Linked DNA regions of Homo sapiens: region 1 is linked to region 2. Evidence: fine-mapped QTL for protein levels in blood plasma. A gene starts in region 2. The other region holds a variant in brackets. All regions are shown on one strand. Distances are from middle to middle.

Region 1 (9,864 bases), 19 kb before region 2:
AGGGACTCTCCAGGACACTGAACTGGGCAAAGATTTCTTGAGCAATATCCCACAAGCACAGGCAACCAAAGCAAAAATCGACAAATGGGATCACGTCAAGTTAAAAAGCTTCTGCGCAATAAAGGAAACAATCAACAAAATGAAGATACAACTCAGAATGAGAGAAAATCTTTGTAACTACTCATCTCACAAGGGATTAATAACCAAAACACATAAGGAACTCAAATAACTCTACAGGAAAAAATCTAATAATCCAATTAAAAATGGGAAAACGATCTGAATAGACATTTCTCGAAAGAAGACATACAAATGGCAAACAGGTATATGAAAAGGCCCTCTCAACACCATTGATCATTAGAGAAATGCAAATCAAAACTACAATGAGATATCATCTCGCCCCAGTTAAAATGGCTTTTATCCAAAAGACAGGCAGTAACAAATGCTGATGAGGATGTGGAGGAAAGGGAACCCTCATACACTGTTGATGGAAATGAAAATTAGCACAACCACTATGGAGAACAGTTTGGAGGTTCCTCATAAAACTAAAAATAGAGCTACCATACAATCTAGCAATCCCACTGCTGAGTATATACCCAAAAGAAAGGAAATCAGTATATCAAAGAGCTATCTGCACTCCCATGTTTGTTACACCACTGTTCATAATAGCTAAGATTTGGAAGCAACCTAAGTGTCCATCAACAAATGAATGGATAAAGAAAATGTGGTACATGTACACAATTAAGTACTACTCAGCCATAAAAATGAATGAGATCCTGTCATTTGCAACAACATGGATGGAACTGAAGGTCATTATGTTAAGTGAAATAACCCAAACACAGAAAGACAAACTTTGCATGTTCTCACTTATTTGTGGTAGCTAAAAATTAAAACAATTTAACTAATAATGGAGATAAGAGTGTAGAAGGATGGTTACCAGAGGCTAGGGAGAGTAGTGAAGGGTTAGGGAGCAAGTGAGGATGGTTAATGGGCACAAAAAATAGTTAGAAAAATGAATAAGACCTAGTATTTGATAGCACAACAGGAGGACTGTAGTCAATAACAATTTGATTGTACATTTTTAAATAACTAAAATAGTATAACTGGATTGTTTGTAACACAAAGGACAAATGCTTGAGGGAACGGATACCCCAGTTACTATGATGTGGTTGTTGACATTGCATGCCTGTTTCAAAGTATCTCATGTACCCTGTAAATATATACATCTTCTATGTATCCACAACAATTAAAAATTAAAAAAAGAATCAGTTGTATAGTTGGTTTTATTATACATACCTTTTTTTTTTTTTTTTTTGGAGACAGGGTCTCACTCTGTCACCCAGGCTGGAGTACAGTGGTGCAATCATAGCTCACTGCCACCCCAAACTCCTGGACTCAAGCGATCTTCCTGCCTCAGCCTCCCCAGTAACTAGGACTACAAGCACAGGCCACCATGCCTGGCTAATTTTTTTTACTTTTTTGTAGAAATGGGGGCTCATTATGTTGCCCAGGCTGCTCTCAAACTCCTAGGCTCGAGTGATCCTCCCACCTTGACTTCCCAAGGCCCTAGGATTACAGATGTGAGTCACCGTGCCTCATCACTGGTTTTTTGTTTGTTTTTGAGACAGAGTCTTGCTCTGTCACCCAGGCTGGAGTGCAGTGGCACGATCTCAGCTCACTGCAACCTCCACCTCCCGGGTTCAAGAGATTCTCATGCCTCAGCCTCCCATGTAGCTGGGACTACAGGCAAGCACCATCACAGCTGGCTAATTTTTTGTGTTTTTAGTAGAGACAGGGTTGTGCCATGTTGGCCAGGCTGGTCTCGAACTCCTGACCTCAAGTGATCTGCCCGCCTCAGCCTCCCAAAGTGCTGGGATTACAGGCGTGAGCCACTGGACCCAGCCTTGTGCCTCACCATTGTTTTCATTATACATATCTTTGATTATAGTAAAAGTTCCACTGCCTGTATAGCCTGTTTGTATATGTTGCTATCACCACTTCCTCAATCATGGATGTTCAAAATCTCAATCATCTTGAACTCTTTTCTCTCCTCAACTCTAAGTTTATCACTCACCAAAACCTGTGGATTCTTCTTCCATGAAGTTTCTCTTAGAAGAAACTTAGAGTTATACTCCAAGCACTGCAGTAGCGGAGCTAACTCTAAAATATTTTGTGTCATACAAGAACTCTGAAAAGGATATAAAAACGAAAGACTTTCCCAACTCATGTCAATTCTTCACACTACACAGTTTTGACATGTTTGAAGTTGATTCCAAGATCTGAAACATTCCTCTTCAAAGGAAAGTTAAACAGTAGCCAACTCTGAGACGGTAATTACAATGCAGGAGGTTTACTAAGGAGTATTCGGTGGATCAGCACCTGCAGAAGGGAAAGGGGGAAACTGCACTAGGGGAGAGAGCAGTGGGGCTGCAATGCAGGCTCCAAAGAGGCATCCACCAGGGCAGCTCAGAAGCAGTCAGGGCCAGTGAGAGTTGTCCTGAACTGGGGCGAAAGGGCCAGACCTTCATACCCCACGTCAATCAGTCACATAATACAGGCCATCCCCAGGAGGGAGGCCACCATGGGCAAGGCAATTCTCTAGCTGATACGATCATCAGAGACAACTGGCTCTGAAGGCAGTCGGGCACAACACTCCTAGCAGCTTTCGGGAAAAAGTCCTTCATCCCTAAAGAGCGATCTGGGCCCTAAAACACAGCATCCACCACAATGTCCCACATTGGAATAAAATAGAAACAAACTGCAGTGAGCTTCGCCCCAACAAACCAGCACCCTCCATTATTGAGAGTTACTTATTTTTCATTGTATTAAGATAAATCATCAGGGGTTGACTATTATGCTAGCTCCATAACTGGAGGAAGCAATGTGCTTCCTTCCTGCCCTGGTCTGATACCAGCTACCACCCACCGGCAGCAAATTTACAAAGATGAAGAACGACGGGGGAGGGGTGGTAATTTATTTTTATCCAATGACATCAGCAAGGAGAAAGTAAAAAAACAGTTGGGAGTCTACAATCCAAATGAGGCTCTCGGAGATTGACTAATTGGAGGCCAAGCATTCTGGCACTTCAAAACAAGCTAAACAGATTTGAAGTGCAGGAAATCTCATTTCATAGTAGAAGTGTTTTTTGTTTTGTCTTTTGTTTTTAATGCAGCTCTGAATGAAGTCAAATCTTTGAGGAATTCTCTCACCAGAGAGAAGTTGGACGAGCAGTTCAACTGCATGCCTGGGTCCTACTGCTCAGACACATGACCTTATCTGTTCACAGATGCAAGAAAGATACAGAGCTAGAAACAGAAGTCCTACCCAGGCCAGGTGTGGCAGCTCACGCCTATAATACCAGCACTTTGGGAGGGCTGAGGCAGAAGGATCCCTTGAGGCAAGGAGTTCAAGACCAGCCTGGGCAACATCGTGTGACCCCATCTCTATTAAAAAAAAAATAAAAATACAAAATACAAAGACTCTTCCCCAACGCTATGGTGTAGGGACAAAGATGTCCCACCCACCCCTATTTCTTGCTGGATCCAGGGAGCGACTCAGAGGATATGTGGACACATCCAATCTAAGGCCTACTCACTGGTCTCATGCGTCCTTAATAAAAAGTCGATTTTAAGTACTTGACATTTTTTTCTGCTGATCTTCCCTTTAAATTTACAAATACAGCTTGGAATTTCCTAGGCACTTATGAAGTCCTAGCATAGGACTTATTTGAAAGTTCTATTCATTTAGCAATAATTTACACAACCAAAACATAAAATCGGGGGCAGCGGGGAGGAGAGTGGGGGCAGCATAGATGAGAGAGGAATAATAATCTCTTTCTCTGCTGTTGCTAGGTTGAGAATTAAATAGATAGTATTTGCAAACTGTTGTGAACATTTTTCTCCCTTTTGGCGAGGCTCCATTCAGACACGGGAAATGGTCACCACCTCTTGAAACCCAGTATGGCACTCTTTTAAATCACTAACTAAAGACACACTCTGTTATGTAAGGTTCTTCTTAGTGTTTTTATAGATAACTTTATAAAACTCCAATCATTTCTGTGTATAACCAGAGACAATCAATCTGAAAACCCTTTCAGATGCTTTCTCCTTCCCAGGGCTGCTTAAGCAACTCAGAAGAAACCTTGTTTGAAGGCTTCGCATTTGGCACAGCCTGAGAACTGGCCATTTGATTTACAAATAGAGTCAAAGCTATTTTTAAATTGTGTAATAAGCATACACAAAAACTAACCTTTCCTTAACTTTTTAAACATACTCTGTAATACCATTATATGCTGCCTCTTCTGACATCTGTCCTCACCAAATAACTTTGGAAAATCATTGAAGGGAAGGAGTAGTGTGTAACCGGAAATCCAACTAGGTACAGAAATACTCTCTATGAAAAAAAAAGTGGATTTTCCACTAGATATATATATATGCCTGACTTAGTGTTTGCTGCTTAATTATTTTTGGCAGCCTTTTGCTACTCAGTCTTATGCAATAATAAATTTATTATCACTTTTTTAGCTGAAAATTTTGATCTCTTTATCAAGTTACTAAATTTTTTTCCTCATTCTTCAGCAGTTTCTTTGATCAACAGATAAGGTAAGAAATAAGGGTTTTCCCCCCACAAATTCATGGAAAACAAAACTTTAAAATACAATTTTTTTTTTTTTGAGACGGAGTCTCGCTTCGTTGCCCAGGCTGGAGTGCAGTGGCATGATCTCGGCTCACTACAACCTCCGCTTTCCAGGTTCAAGCAATCCTCCTGCCTCAGCCCCCCAGTAGCTGGGATTAGAGGCATGCGCCACCATACCCGGCTAATTTTTGTATAAAATACAATATTTTTTAGAGAGTGAAATAATAGACATTGGAGATTCATATGGCAGGGAGGTAAGGGATAAGAAATGACTTAATGGATACAACATACACTATTTGGCTGATGTTTATACTAAAAGCCCAGACTCCACCACTACCCAAAATATCCATGTAAGAAAACTGCACATGTACCCCCTAAATCTATAAAAATAAAATATTTTAAAAACTTAGGCCGGGCGCGGTGGCTCACGCCTGTAATCCCAGCACTTTGGGAGGCCGAGGCGGGCGGATCACGAGGTCAAGAGATCGAGACCATCCCGGCTAAAACGGTGAAACCCCGTCTCTACTAAAAATACAAAAAAAAAATTAGCCGGGCGTAGTGGCGGGCGCCTGTAGTCCCAGCTACTTGGGAGGCTGAGGCAGGAGAATGGCGTGAACCCGGGAGGCGGAGCTTGCAGTGAGCCGAGATCCCGCCACTGCACTCCAGCCTGGGCGACAGAGCGAGACTCCGTCTCAAAAAAAAAAAAAAAAACTTAAAGTACGATTTTAAAAATACAATGTTTCTGCTTCACAGTTTAATGTCACTTTAAGGCAAAAAAACTATTGGGTAAATTCAGTCTACACAGAAAACACAAGTATTCTGAGCAGAACAAAACCAAACAAAAAATCTCCTTTGGTCCCTTACATACTCCTTTTATATTTTTCTCTCTTATTTCCCTTTGCTTACAAATATCTTAATAAATTTGAGTTTCATAAACAAAGTTTT[G/C]TTCCATTGTCTAAAAAAAAGCAGGTTAAACACAAACATTGAGTAAAAAAAAAAGCAGGTCAAACACAAACCTACTAAAAGTAAAATAAATAAAATGGTACACTATAAAGCAAATGTTAGGTTAAGTACAAATGAAAAACCCAGAGTCAAGCAAGGTTCTTGGCTGCTAAATGTACAGGGCATTTTTAATGGCAGGGTCAGCAATCCACAGCCTACAGATCCAGTCTGGCCCACGCCTGTTTTTTGTACAGTTCATGAACTAAGAATGGGTTTGCATTTCTAAATAGCTGGGGGGAATATCAAAAGAAGAAGAATATTTCATGATAAGTAAAAATTATATGAACTCAAAATTTCAGCATCCATAAATAAAGTTCTGCTGGTACACAACCATGCTCTTTTGTTTATGAACCGTCTACAGCTGCTTCCGAGCTATAAAGGCAGAGTTGAGCAGCTGTAATAAAGACCTGAAGGTTGGCAAAACCTACATGCTTAACATCTGGCCCTTTACAGAAATTTTGCCGACCCCTGTGGCTCTCTTTAGGGAGATTTTCTTCTTCCTCAAGGGATAAGGGATAAGGGTGAAGATCTACCTAAGCCAAAATGAGTCATCAGCAGGGAGACTTGGACTCATGCCACAGGCTTGTGGTCAGGCATCAGTATTAATATCTGATACTGAGAAACACCAGGTACAACATAGTTAACATTCCCTCGGTGTCTTCTATGTACCAAGCATTGTGATAAATGTTTTAAAGATGTGCACTAAAAAAAAAATAGAAAAAATTGGGCAGTATGGCCATTTTCAAGATATTGATTCTTCCTACCCATGAGCATGGAATGTTCTTCCATTTGTTTGTGTCCTCCTTTATTTCGTTGAGCAGTGGTTTGTAGTTCTCCTTGAAGAGGTCCTTCACATCCCTTGTAAGTTGGATTCCTAGGTATTTTATTCTCTTTGAAGCAATTGTGAATGGGAGTTCACTCATGATTTGGCTCTCTGTTTGTCTGTTATTGGTGTATAAGAATGCTGGTGATTTTTGCACATTGATTTTGTATCCTGAGACTTTGCTGAAGTTGCTTATCAGCTTAAGGAGATTTTGGGCTGAGACAATGGGGTTTTCTAGATATACAATCATGTCATCTACAAACAGGGACAATTTGACTTCCTCTTTTCCTAATTGAATACCTTTTATTTCTTTCTCCTGCCTGATTGCCCTAGCCAGAACCTCCAACACTATGTTGAATAGGAGTGGTGAGAGAGGACATCCCTGTCTTGTGCCAGTTTTCAAAGGGAATGCTTCCAGTTTTTGCCCATTCAGTATGATATTGGCTGTGGGTTTGTCATGAATAGCTCTTATTATTTTTAGATATGTCCCATCAATACCTAATTTATTGAGAGTTTTTAGCATGAAGCGCTGTTGAATTTTGTCAAAGGCCTTTTCTGCATCTGTTGAGATAATCATGTGGTTTTTGTCTTTGGTTCTGTTTATATGCTGGATTACGTTTATTGATTTTCATATGTTGAACCAGCCTTGCATCCCAGGGATGAAGCCCACTTGATCATGGTGGATAAGCTTTTTGATGTGCTGCTGGATTTGGTTTGCCGGTATTTTATTGAAGATTTTTGCATCGATGTTCATCAGGGATATTGGCCTAAAATTCTCTTTTTTTGTTGTGTCTCTGCCAGGCTTTGGTATCAGGAAAATGGCCATACTGCCCAAGGTAATTTATAGATTCAATGCCATCCCCATCAAGCTACCAATGACTTTCTTCACAGAACTGGAAAAAACTACTTTAAAGTTCATACGGAACCAAAAAACAACTCACATTGCCAAGTCAATCCTAAGCCAAAAGAACAAAGCTGGAGGCATCATGCTACCTGACTTCAAACTATACTACGAGGCTACAGTAACCAAAACAGCATGGTACTGGTACCAAAACAGAGATATAGACCAATGGAACACAATAGAGCCCTCAGAAATAATGCCACACATCTACAACTATCTGATCTTTGACAAACCTGACACAAACAAGAAATGGGGAAAGGATTCCCTATTTAATAAATGGTGCTGGGAAAACTGGCTAGCCATATGTAGAAAGCTGAAACTGGATCCCTTCCTTACACCTTATACAAAAATTAATTCAAGATGGATTAAAGACTTAAATGTTAGACCTAAAACCATAAAAACCCTAGAAGAAAACCTAGGCAATACCATTCAGGACACAGGCATGGGGAAGGACTTCATGTCTAAAACACCAAAAGCAATAGCAACAAAAGCCAAAATTGACAAATGGGATCTAATTAAACTAAAGAGCTTCTGCACAGCAAAAGAAACTACCATCAGAGTGAACAGGCAGCCTACAGAATGGGAGAACATTTTTGCAACCTACTCATCTGACAAAGGGCTAATATCCAGAATCTACAAAGAAGTCAAACAAATTTACAAGAAAAAAAACAAACAACCCCATCAACAAGTGGGCAAAGGATATGAACACACACTTCTCAAAAGAAGACATTTGTGCAGCCAAAAAACACATGGAAAAATGCTCATCATCACTGGCCATCAGAGAAATGCAAATCAAAACCACAATGAGATACCATCTCACACCAGTTAGAATGGCGATCATTAAAAAGTCAGGAAACAACAGGTACTGGAGAGGATGTGGAGAAATAGGAACACTTTTACACTGTTGGTGGGACTGTAAACTAGTTCAACCATTGTGGAAGACAGGGTGGTGATTCCTCAGGGATCTATAACTAGAAATACCATTTGACCCAGCCATCCCATTACTGGGTATATACCCAAAGGACTATAAATCATGCTGCTATAAAGACACATGCACACGTATGTTTATTGAGGCATTATTCACAATAGCAAAGACTTGGAACCAACCCAAATGTCCAACAACAACAGACTGGATTAAGAAATTGTGGCACATATACACCATGGAATACAATGCAGCCATAAAAAATGATGAGTTCATGTCCTTTGTAGGGACATGGATGAAGCTGGAAACCATCATTCTCAGCAAACTATCGCAAGGACAAAAAACCAAACACCGCATGTTCTCACTCATAGGTGGGAATTGAACAATGAGAACACTTGGACACAGGACGGGGAACATCACACACCGGGGCCTGTCGTGGGATGGGGGAAGGGGGAAGGGATAGTATTAGGAGATACACCTAATGTAAGTGACGCGTTAATGGGTGCAGCACACCAACATGGCACATGTATACATATGTAACAAACCTGCATGTTGTGCACATGTACCCTAGGACATAAAGTATAATAAATATATATATATATATATATATATATATATATATATATATATATATAAAGATAACAATTTTAAATCAAAGTTCTTAACTGCATAATAAAAGAGAAAATAATAACTAATATTTATTAAATTAGGTGTCTTTTATGTGCCAAAAAAAGAAAAAATTGGGTGACATTACTTTTAATAACATATTTTATTTAACTCAATATGTCCAAAATATTAACATTGAACATGAAATCATTATTTTAAAATCATAAGTTTTATTGCATTTCTTGGAACTAAGTATTCAAAATCCATTATGTATTTTATACTCCTGGCACATCTCAATTTGTATGAGCCACATTTCAAGTGCTCAAAAACCACATGTGGTTAGTAGCTACCATATTGGATGATACAGCTCTTAAGTATTATCTCATTTAATCCTCTCAACAATGCTACGAGGTGGGTACTACTATTAGGTGATGCTAGGGTTCAATTTCAGTGTGGTTCCTGAGCACCCATTCTAACCCACTGTGCCTCCCAAACAGTGCAGGACAGACCCAGCTATTCCTTCCAAAACAGTAGTGCAAACATAACCTCATATCCCTTCCCTCCTTGTTCCTCCTCTGTAGCTTACTCCACTCTCATTTACTATTTGGATACACCCACTCTTTCGTCTGTTCTCTCTTATCCATGTTGTTACTACCTCAAGCCCCTATGTAGCTACGTAGATAACCGTTCCTCTTAGACCATTCCTCTTCAACTGATCCATAAATAAAGTTTATGGATGGGCTACAGAATCCTTCGCAGCATTCATACCACACTCCCCAACTCCCATGGCCATGGCAGACACAGCTAATTCATCCAGTTCTCTAGTCCAGTAAACCCACGCTTGACTTTGAAACTGTCAACACGGCACCCGAACAAGCCTCTATAATCAACGTGGGAGGACACATCAAATGAAGCCTACTCTGCTTCCCTGCGAAGAGCACAGGCACAGGAACCTCATGTGGTCACCAAATATTTATG
Region 2 (10,085 bases):
TTCTGCTTCCAGGACAGAGACAGTGAGGTTTGATGCTGTCTTGAGCAGCTCCGCCTTCACAGTCACCTGTGAAGGGCAGTGTTCCAGAAGCTCCACCCCAATAGTCACATTTCCTCCGGGCCTGATGATCCCTGGGGCTGTCACCAGAAACCGAGGCCTAAAGAGTTCCCAACAAGGGAAAAACAAAGTTTCTTATCCTCACATCTCCTTTCTTTTGTGACCCTCAGATTTCCTAGTGCGATAGGCACTCCATACTGCGCCAATTGCAGTTGTTTCCGTTAACATTGCCCACTGCTCTATTTGGCAACTGAATTGAAATGCTACTGAAACAACAATAATTCCCATAAATCAATTTTAATGCAGTAATTCATGCATCACTACTAGAGGAAGGCCTGTGTTATTATTTCCATTTTATAAACCACGAACCGCACAGAAGGAACCATGATGTAAATGGCTTGCACCGGGGCATAATGGAGTTATTGGCAAAGCAAAAGTCTCTAAGCTTCTCCTTTACAGAGGACCTTATCCCAGCGTGATTATTTTCTTGTTGTTGTTGTTATTTTTTAACTAAGATTTTGCCTGTTTCTTATTCAAACCTTTATCCTTGAGTAGCTGCCCAACGAGGGTAAAAAATTATTTAACCAATACCATTGATTGAAATATACCATTTGAAAATAAACTACAACTGGTGAAAATTCCAGGTATAGCGAATCATAAAAGAAGTCACTAAAGCAGCACTTTCTCTGCTATAACTAGGGGTTAGGGCTCAACTACAGAAATCTTTAGGAATGAATGGGGCTTGCCATTATTGGGTGCTGTTGTTTTCTTCCTATAATGTCTGCCCCTGAACCCATACATCAGTCCCCTCCGCCACACTTTGGCAATGCTAAGGTTGAGACATCTTGGTTAGAAAAAATATATCATGTCTTTGAGAGAAGAATCGCAATCTGGGAGCAAAAAGTTGAGAAGCAAAAGGCAGAGGCAATGTGGACTAAAAATAAAATGACTCTCTTCAGAAAGTTGTTATGGCCGGGGAGACGCTTAAACAACTTCATGAGTGGAGAAAGTTAACTGTCCCATGGAGAGCCACGCTGAAGCTACATATGGTCAAACCTCCAGGCCAGTACCAGGCTGGGGACTGCAGCCGCGAGGGCATTTCCCACCCGCTGCTGCACAGCAGCCGCCACCTCCCCGAAGCCCTGGCCCAGAGCCGCAGAGCGGCCCAGGCCCGCGCGCCCGCGCGCCCCCCGCGCGCCCACGTTCCTACCCGGGAGCCACGGCCAGCGCGGCGGTGCACACGCAGAGGAGGTGGGCGGCGGTCAGGAGCGGTGGGCCCTGCATCTCGACGGCGTCTGCCTGGGCTACAGTCCGCTGCCGGGGAAGTTCGCGGGCACCGTGGGGTGTGGCTTGCCACCTCCTCCCTGATTTTTTTTCCCTCTTAATTCGAGTTTAGTAATCTGAAATGGGCGCGCCTAACAGCAGAGTGAGAGATCTAAATTGAGACAGGACTTGGAGGCTCCACCCCTCCCATCCCCATTACAATGGCGCTTCTCGCTGCTGTGGCAAACATCGCAAATCCAGGGGGTGAGAAAGCAGTTGCTAAACGCAGGCGGCCCCACCTGGCCCGGCGTCCCAGCTGGCCGCGGAGAACAGAGCGCGCCCACTTCCCCGGCCCACCGGGTTCCTCAGGCTGTTTACACTAGCGCTCTACCAACGATGCCCAGGGTGAGTAAACAGGCCCATCCTTGTGAGGAGAAATTCATAGCAACTATGTGAAGTGGAAAAAAGTCAATCATTGTCCTCCAGACTATGAGTCAGAATTTTAGAGAAACGGCACACACACACACGCACACACACACGCACGCACACGCGCGCAAAACCGGGGCGTATTTCCTGGGTAGTTATTTAATGTATATGAATGGAAACAGAAAAACTATTTTTCCTTAAAACAAAAAATGAGGTCTACTGCTTTCCTTTCCAGGAAAATGTTATGATTTATCACCTTAAAAAAAAAAAGAAGAAGAGAACTCGCACTGCAGACGTTAGGTGTTGCTACTTGGAACCCTGAAAAAAAATTACCTAAGAAGATGCCTTTATATTTTTGCTACAGAAAGAATTTGGTAGAACTGTAAAGCTTGGAGCAATCTCTGAACACAGTTAGGGTTGGGTTGGCTCTCCTGTCAGAATGAAGGCCAGTGGCCGGTGGTGCCCAGGAGTTATTGATGCCCAACGCTGTCTGGCTTCTTTGCAGCTCCTCTCTCCTGCTCTCTGGCACTGCCACCATCTTCAGATGACTCAGGTTTCACCATGACTACACCATAAAAGCAGGGAACTGCCAGAAACTGTTGGAAAACAGACACATTCAGTCCCTGACAACTTAAACTTTCTAATTCATGGAGCGGTTTTAGATGGTAGCATTCTAATATGGGGCAAAATGCAAACGGAAAAGAGGTCAGCAAAAAGATGTCTCATGACAAAGCTATGTGCTAAATAAGGAAAAGTGAGAAAGTAGCACCTAGACAAACTGTGGTTTGGGGAATCCAGAAACTTGCTTTCCTCCCTTTCCTGTTCCACCCTTTTTCTCCCTGCTGAACAGCTTGCAAAGGTCCTTATGTCCTTTCCTTCAGGCAGCCTATCTTTAGTGGCCAACTTCCTGTGCAGGCAGGACTTAGGAATGGTCAAAAGTGTCTGTGTGGATCCCTGGGTGCTGACCTGTTCCTGACACAGCTGTTACTACTGGTCTCCTCACCTCCGTTGTTCAGAGAGGAGGACCATGGTCAAGGGTGGGCCAAGCACCAAGGTCTAACTCAGTGCTTCTCACATGCCAATGTGTGTGAGAATCACATGAAAACAGACTCTGACTTGGCAGGTCTGGAACGAGGACTGGGATTCTGCTTTACTTTAGCAGACAGTAGGCCATGGAGACTCTACAAGTGGGGGCAATTTGGGGGCAATTTGATGAGCAAAGGCAATTAAGAACACAGAAAATTCTTCTCAATCTTTCACTTCATAAAGGTGGATTAATAAATTCAGGTTCATTCTAGAGGTAGGCAAACATAAGAGGGACTGCAAAAGATTAGATGATAATGTTGCCTCCCGAGAAGACTTACAGAAAGTCTTAGAACCACATTGTATAAATCTGTGTGGATTTTAAAGTGATGCCACCTTCCTGTTTATGCCCTCCTTCCCACAATACACACTTGTCGAAAGGCGTAGTCATGCAAAAATTTAGGCATATGGATTTGCATAGAGATGAGGCTATTACATGCCTGGCACAGAGTAGCTATTCAATAAAAATGTGTTAAAAGGATTAATGAAAAATGTTCATCTCAGAAGTGGGATTTTTTATTAAGAAAAACTGAAAATGAGGCCAGGCGTGGTGGTTCACACCTGTAATCCCAGTAATTTGGGAGACCGAGGCGGGTGGATCACCTAAGGTCACGAGTTCGAGACCAACCTGACCAACATTGTGAAACCCCATCTCTACTAAAAATACAAAATTAGCCAAGTGTGGATGGTGGCACATGCCTGTAATCCGAGCTACTCAGGAGACTGAGGCAAGAGAATTGCTTGAACCTGGGCGTTGGAGGTTGCAGTGAGCCGAGATCGCAGAATTGCTCTCCAGCCTGGGCAACAAGAGCAAAACTCCGTCTCAAAAAAAAAAAGAAAAGAAAAGAAAGAAAAGAAAAAAGAAACACTGAAAATGGGCCGGGCATGGTGGCTTATGCCTGTAATCCCAACATTTTGGGAGGCTGAGGAAGGCAAATCACTTGAGGGCAGGAGTTCAAGACCAGCCTGGCCAAAATGGTGAAACCCTGTCTCTACTAAAAATACAAAAATTAGCCCAGCATGGTGGCACATACCTGTAATAAAAGCTACTCAGGAGGCTGTGGCATGACAATCACTTGAACCCAGGAGGTGGAGGCTGCAGTGAGCCAAGATGGTGCCACTGCACTCCAGTCTGGGTGACAGAGCAAGACTCTGTCTCAAAAGAAAAACTGAAAATGGTCTGAACATGTAACAATAAGATATTGGGTTTGCTGTCATTTGGATGTTTGTCGCCCAAAGCTGATGCTGAAATTTGATCCCCAGTGTTGGAGGTAGAGCACAATGTGAGATGTTTGGGTTCTGTGGGTGGATCCTCATGAATAGATGAATGTCCTCCCTGGGGGTCGGGGGGTGAGTGAGTACTCAGTTCCCACAAGAATTGGTTGTTAAAAAGAGCCTGGCACCTCCTGCTTCTCTTGTTTCCTCTCTCACCATGGGATCTCTGCACACTAGCTCCCCTTCCCCTTCCACATGAGTGGAAGCAGCCTGAGGACCTCACCAGAAGCCAAGCAAATGCCAATGTCATGCTTCTTGAACAGCCTGCAGAATTGTAAGCCAAGTAAACTTTTTTTTTTAATAAATTACCCAGCCTTGGGTACTACCTTATAGCAACACAAAACAGACAAAAACAGGATTAAATAAATTACAGTATATCCATGCAATGGAATACTGAAATAATTAAAAACTATTTGTTTAATTGGAGCTTGTTTAACCATCTAGAGACAAATATTCATATGTTATTAAGGAGGGTATATTAGTCTGTTCTCACCCTGCTAATAAAGACATACCTGAGACTGGGTAATTTATAAAGGAAAGAGATTTAATTGATTCACAGTTCCACATGGCTGGGAGGCCTCACAATTATGGTGGAAGGCGAATGTGGAGCAAAGTCAAGTCTTACATGGTGGCAGGCAAGAGAGCATATGTAGGGGAACTCCCCTTTATAAAACCATCATATTTCGTGAAATTTATTCACTATCACAAGAAAAGCATGGGAAAGACCCACCCCCAAAATTGAATTACATCCCACTGGGTCCCTCCCGTGACATGTGGGAATTATGAGAGCTGCAATTCAAGATGAGATTTGGGTGGGGACACAGCCAAACCATATCAGAGGGGAAGTCTGTTTTATAAAACAGAATTTAAATTTCATTTTATTTTTATAAAAAATAAAGTGTATTTATGTGTACATAGACATTACAGATCTATGCACTGAAGAAAGACTTGAAGGATATTCACCAAAATGCTATTATCAGTATCCTGGTGATTACCTGGATATGCCAAGTTTCCTACAATAAATATATATTATATCTCCTTTAAGAAGAAAACAATAATAATATTATTTTAGTAAATAGTTTTTGAGGGGGCATCTTAGAAGCTCTTTTGCATAAAACTTCTGAATTTTGATACCAAAAATATCATCTATGCTTATTGCATGAAAACCTAATGGTCTCTTGGATAAGAACCCCACACTGTTCCTGTGTCCCTCCTGAGCTGTCTTTAAGGTGTTGATATGGTTTGGATCTGTGTCCCTGCCCAGATCTTATGTCAAATCCCCAATTTCGGAGGTGGGGCCTGGTAGGAGGTGATTGAATCATGGGGGCAGATTTCCCCCGTGGTGCTGTTCTTGCGATAGTGAATCTTCATGAGATCTGGTTGTTTAAAAGTATGTGGCACCTCCCCCCACCTCTTTTGGTCCTTCTCCTGCCATGTAAGATACCACGAGCCCATACATCAGCCCCTTCTGCCATACTTTGGCAATGTTAAAGTTGAGACCATGAGTAAAAGCTCCCTGAGGCCTCCCTAGAAGCAGATGCTGACATGCTTCCTATATAGCCTGTGGAACTGTGAGCCAATTAAACTTCTTTTCTTTATAAGTTACCCAGTCTCAGGTGTTACTTTATAGCAATGCAAGAACAGAGTAATTCAATGAGAAAGGCAGAACCACTATGAGTGAGACAGACCCTAAGCAATCATGGGAGCTGGTAGGGCAGTTTGTGCAAACCATTGCCCCTGTGTGTGGTGTGCAGCATAACATAACTATGAGTCAGCCAGGGGAGAAAAGCTAAATGTGGGTAAGAATAAAGAAAAACTGATTGAGAAGTGGAACCCATGTCCATCTTACCACCTCCAACTTCCATGTCATGAGTAACCTGCAGGAGAAGCTGGTGTCCTTTGTCCAGAGCTTCATGTACATTTGGCCCACAATTCAGAAAAACTGAAGGAAGAGAGCCTCTGAGAACTAAAGGAGCTACAGGCCTGACTGTGGCCCTGAACCCACAAAGTGAACTGGCACATTAGTAACAGTATGGACAAGTGTTCCCAACTGCCTAGCACTCTAAACCAAGCTTCAGAAAGTAAAAAATACAGGTGTATGGGGTACCCCACCTCCCCTTTATAGTCTGCTCTGTCCATAACACCAGCTGGAGGCTTTCCTGGGGCCACCTGAGTCCAGGCCCCAATCAGATGGACATTGGAAGGGGTGAGACCAGGACTGGCAGGGAGCAGTTAGTTGCCTTTCTAGTCTCCCTCCCTAGCCATGCACTTTTGCCTTTAGAAAAATGATGGGGAAAACCTTGGCTCCTTCTTTGTCCAGAAAGTGTTAATTGCCTGTGGGTTCTGGTGGCCGGGGAGAAGAGCAGGAAAGCAGAGAGCAGGTGGGTGGCTGAAAGGGAAGAGGGGAGGAACACGGCAGAAACATGAAGGTGACCCTATCTATTCCCCTGGAGAAGGGGTGAGAGGTCAGGTAGAGTAGCTGCTCAGTACACAAAATGTAGAAAGATGATGAGAAAAAAAAATCTGCTACAGTCTTACCACTACCCAGAGACAAGCATTATTTCATTTTGTTGTGTTTCCTTCCTCTCTTTCTTTCTCCACATAATTTGCTGGTATCTTTTTTAAAGAGTAATTATGTTATAAATATAATACAACTTTGTGCTTTGTGTCCTACTTTTCCCATTTAATTATTCCATCATAAGCATTTCCTCATGTTTTACAAACCTTTTTTAAATAAAATGTTCATCAGCTGCAGCCGGGCACGGTGGCTCACGCCTGTAATCCCAGCACTTGGGAGGCCGAGGCGGGCAGATCACCTGAGGTCAGGAGTTTGAGACCAGCCTGACCAACATGGAGAAACCCCGTATCTACTAAAAATACAAAATTAGCAAGGCGTGGTGGCACATGCCTGTAATCCCAGCTACTCAGGAGGCTGAGGCAGGAGAATCTCTTGAACCTGGGAGGCGGAGGTTGCGGTGAGCCGAGATCACACCACTGCACTCCAGCCTGGACAACAAGAGCGAAACTCCGTCTCAAAAAAACAAACAAAAAAAATGTTTATCACCTGCATAATAAAACAAACAAAAGGAATAAAAACATTTTCAGAAATGGAATGGCTCAGAAACTTCGCCTTTCACAAATTCATTTTAGGAAGTTACTTTAGGAAGACATATTTAGCAACGAAGTGAAATAAGCCAAGAAAAAGGGAAATGTATATATAACCCCAGAAAAAAATGAAGAGAGAACTTCTAATAGGAAAAATTCCAGGAGTAAGCTCTTAAGGGAAATAAAAGGGATCTTAATCGAATAGATGTACATAATGAAATACAAGAAAACTGAGACTATGATAAAGTAAAATAGTGCAGTAAAAAGGAAGGGAATTTAGAAATTCAAGGGAAAAGCAAACACTGAATAAAAAAGAATATATCATGATTCATTAGTTGGCTTTGCAGTGAAAAATAATTAGTTGTGTTGATGTAAGTATGGTTTACTGATTTATAACAGAATAAAAGAATTGACAAAGAAGATTTAATTACACTGTTTCACCATTTCTAAAATATATGTTTTTCACATTTGTAACATTTCTGATCTTATAATCAATGGTATCATAATAATAATTGACAATAAATTTTCTTTCTTGGTATTAAAGTAAGTGGTGTATCTTAGATTTGATGAAATATGTGAAATACACAATGTTTACAAAACAATGTAAATGGTGTTAATACTTGAAAAGAGCACAGATGACAAAAACTTACAAAGTCAAAGAGGGATGAAGAATTAAAGCATTGACTGAGACACTAAGAGCCTTATAAAGTAAAAAAAAAAAATGTGTCTACAGTTTTCTTGGATCAAGAAATATGTCATAAGCATATTAAGACTATAAAGTAGTGTAAGGATATAAGAAAAACTGAACCAAAGTGGTTTTCCCACTTTTATACACTCAATATAACACACTGGCCACCAAAATGCATAGAAGAGCTTCTCCCATGCTGACCAAGCAATCAATTCTCTGGCAGATTCTACAGCAGACTCAGCTGAGCATCCTCTAAGTCAATTCAATCCCAACACAAACTACCTGGAAATAGCAGCAGATCCCCTAGGTTGAGGGTTCCTTCCCATAAGACTGCCCCCAACCTTAGATGCCAATCACAAACTCAGGTTGTGACCTGTGCTTCTGATCCAACAGCTATAAATTGGGGTTCCCACAATCCCATCCTTGGGTTTGGTTAATTTGCTAGAGCAGCTCACAGAACTCAGGGAAACTATGTTTCCCAGTTTATTAATAAAGGGTATAATAAATGACCTCTGCCAATTCTAGTTTGGAAGTTGAAAGATGTCGCCCAATGGAATAATTTATAAACTAATTAATTAATTAACAGAAGCAGCTGGGCTTGGTGGCTCATGCCTGTAATCCCAGCACTTTGGGAGGCCAAGGCAGGAGTACTGCTTGAGCTCAGGAGTTCGAGACCAGCCTGGGCAACATAGCAAAACCTTGTCTCTACTAAAAATCAAAAAAATTAGCCAGATGTGGTGGTGCGTGGCTGTAGTCCCAGCTACTTAGGAAGCTGAGGTAGGAAGATCACTTGAGTCTGGGAGATTGAGGCTGCAGTGAGCTTGATTACACCGCTGCACTCCAGCCTGAGTGACAGAAGGAGACCCTGTCTCAAAAAAAAAAAAAAAAAAAAAAAAAACAAAGAAAAACTCTCAGAACCCTATAATCCAGGAATTTTTATGGAAGCTTCATCAAGTAGAAATAATTATTAATGCCATTTCCAGCCCTTCTCCCCTCTCCAGAGGATGAGGGTGCACTAGAAGTTCCAGGCTTCTAATCATAGCTTGGTCTTTCTGGTGACCAGCCTCTATCCAGCAGCCTACCAAGAGTTACCTCATTAGTACAAAAGACTCTCTCATCGCACAGAAAATTCCAAGGGATTTAGGAGCTCTGTGTCAGATGCTAACACTTAGGAAATTACAAATGTCTTTGGAGCTCTGTGTCAGGAACCAGAGCAGAGACCAAATATTAGAACAAAAGATTCTCCTAGCACCCCTATCTAACAGAGTATTAAGAACTCTGTTTCAAGAACCAGAGCAGAAACCAAACATTAGAATGAAAGATTCTCCTAGCACTCCTATTGCTCAGGAAACTACAAGAGTTTTAAGAACTCTGTGCCAGGGACTGGGGGGCAGAGACCAATATGTGTATTTTTTATTGCACAACAGCCAATTAGAAATTAAAATACTAATATATTATCATAAATAGTAAAAGCAAAGGTATGTTTTCCAAAAAAAATCTACCAGACAAAAAGAAATCACAATTAATTTGAGTTCTTACAAAGTTTCTAGTGTTCTTCTAGTGCATGATTTTAATTACTATATTTTGAACAGCAAAGTACTATCTGGGGAAGATACATTAATCTGAGATGACATCTGCCAATGCCAGTTGGGAGTTTCTCACCTAATGGGACAATTTGTAAACTTATTAATCTATTAATAAGCAAAGAAACAACCTCAAAATCACACCAACAATAAACTTTTGCTTCAGATCCCAAGTTTGCAGGCCAGCTGAGGCAGTTCCCACTTTGTGTTTCTCCTTTTCCTTGGAACAGTAGTCTGGGAAAAGCACGTCCTTCTTGCGGTCATGGTAGAAGCACAAGAGAACAAGCCCCACTGCTCAAGCACATTTTAGGTCCCTGTTTACTTGACATCTGTGAAGATCCTGTTGCCCAGAGCAAGTTTCATGGTCAAGGACCAAGTCAAGGATGGGTAGAATACTCCACCTTTTGGTTAGAGGAACTGCAAACTTAATTATGTGGGAAAGGATATGGATGGGAGAAAATTGGGACAAATAATTCAATCTACCACAGACAGTTAGCAAAATTTGCCAAAAGCTGTGTTCTGTTCATCAAGACAATGTTTCCATGAAGGACAATTAGCCTATCAAGGAAGGAAGGAAAGAAGGGGAGGAGAGGGAAGGAGAGGGG

Evidence for each region. A credible set is the group of variants that fine-mapping cannot tell apart. PIP is the posterior inclusion probability: the model's chance that the variant is causal. Sun 2018 read protein levels with aptamers (SomaScan).
Region 1: its variant is the best candidate, but not a certain one, in a credible set for the plasma level of the CD109 protein (Sun 2018, PIP 0.53).

What each region holds. Positions count from the first base shown.
Region 1 is chr6:73,707,014-73,716,877 of GRCh38, reverse strand. The region is part of intron 2 of CD109 (CD109 molecule); the gene reads right to left. Among named protein-coding and RNA genes, the nearest start is that of CD109, 16 kb to the right of the region's middle. The variant G/C (reference allele first, on the strand shown) is at 5,578.
Region 2 is chr6:73,687,472-73,697,556 of GRCh38, reverse strand. It overlaps CD109 (CD109 molecule), which reads right to left and starts at 1,354. Exons shown (of 33, transcript NM_133493.5): 1 at 1,268-1,354; 2 at 1-157. The coding sequence starts at 1,341. It overlaps CD109-AS1 (CD109 antisense RNA 1), which reads left to right and starts at 1,426. Exons shown (of 2, transcript NR_110889.1): 1 at 1,426-1,725; 2 at 1,982-3,654. RefSeq lists a silencer at 1,185-1,234 and enhancers at 797-1,511, 1,465-1,724.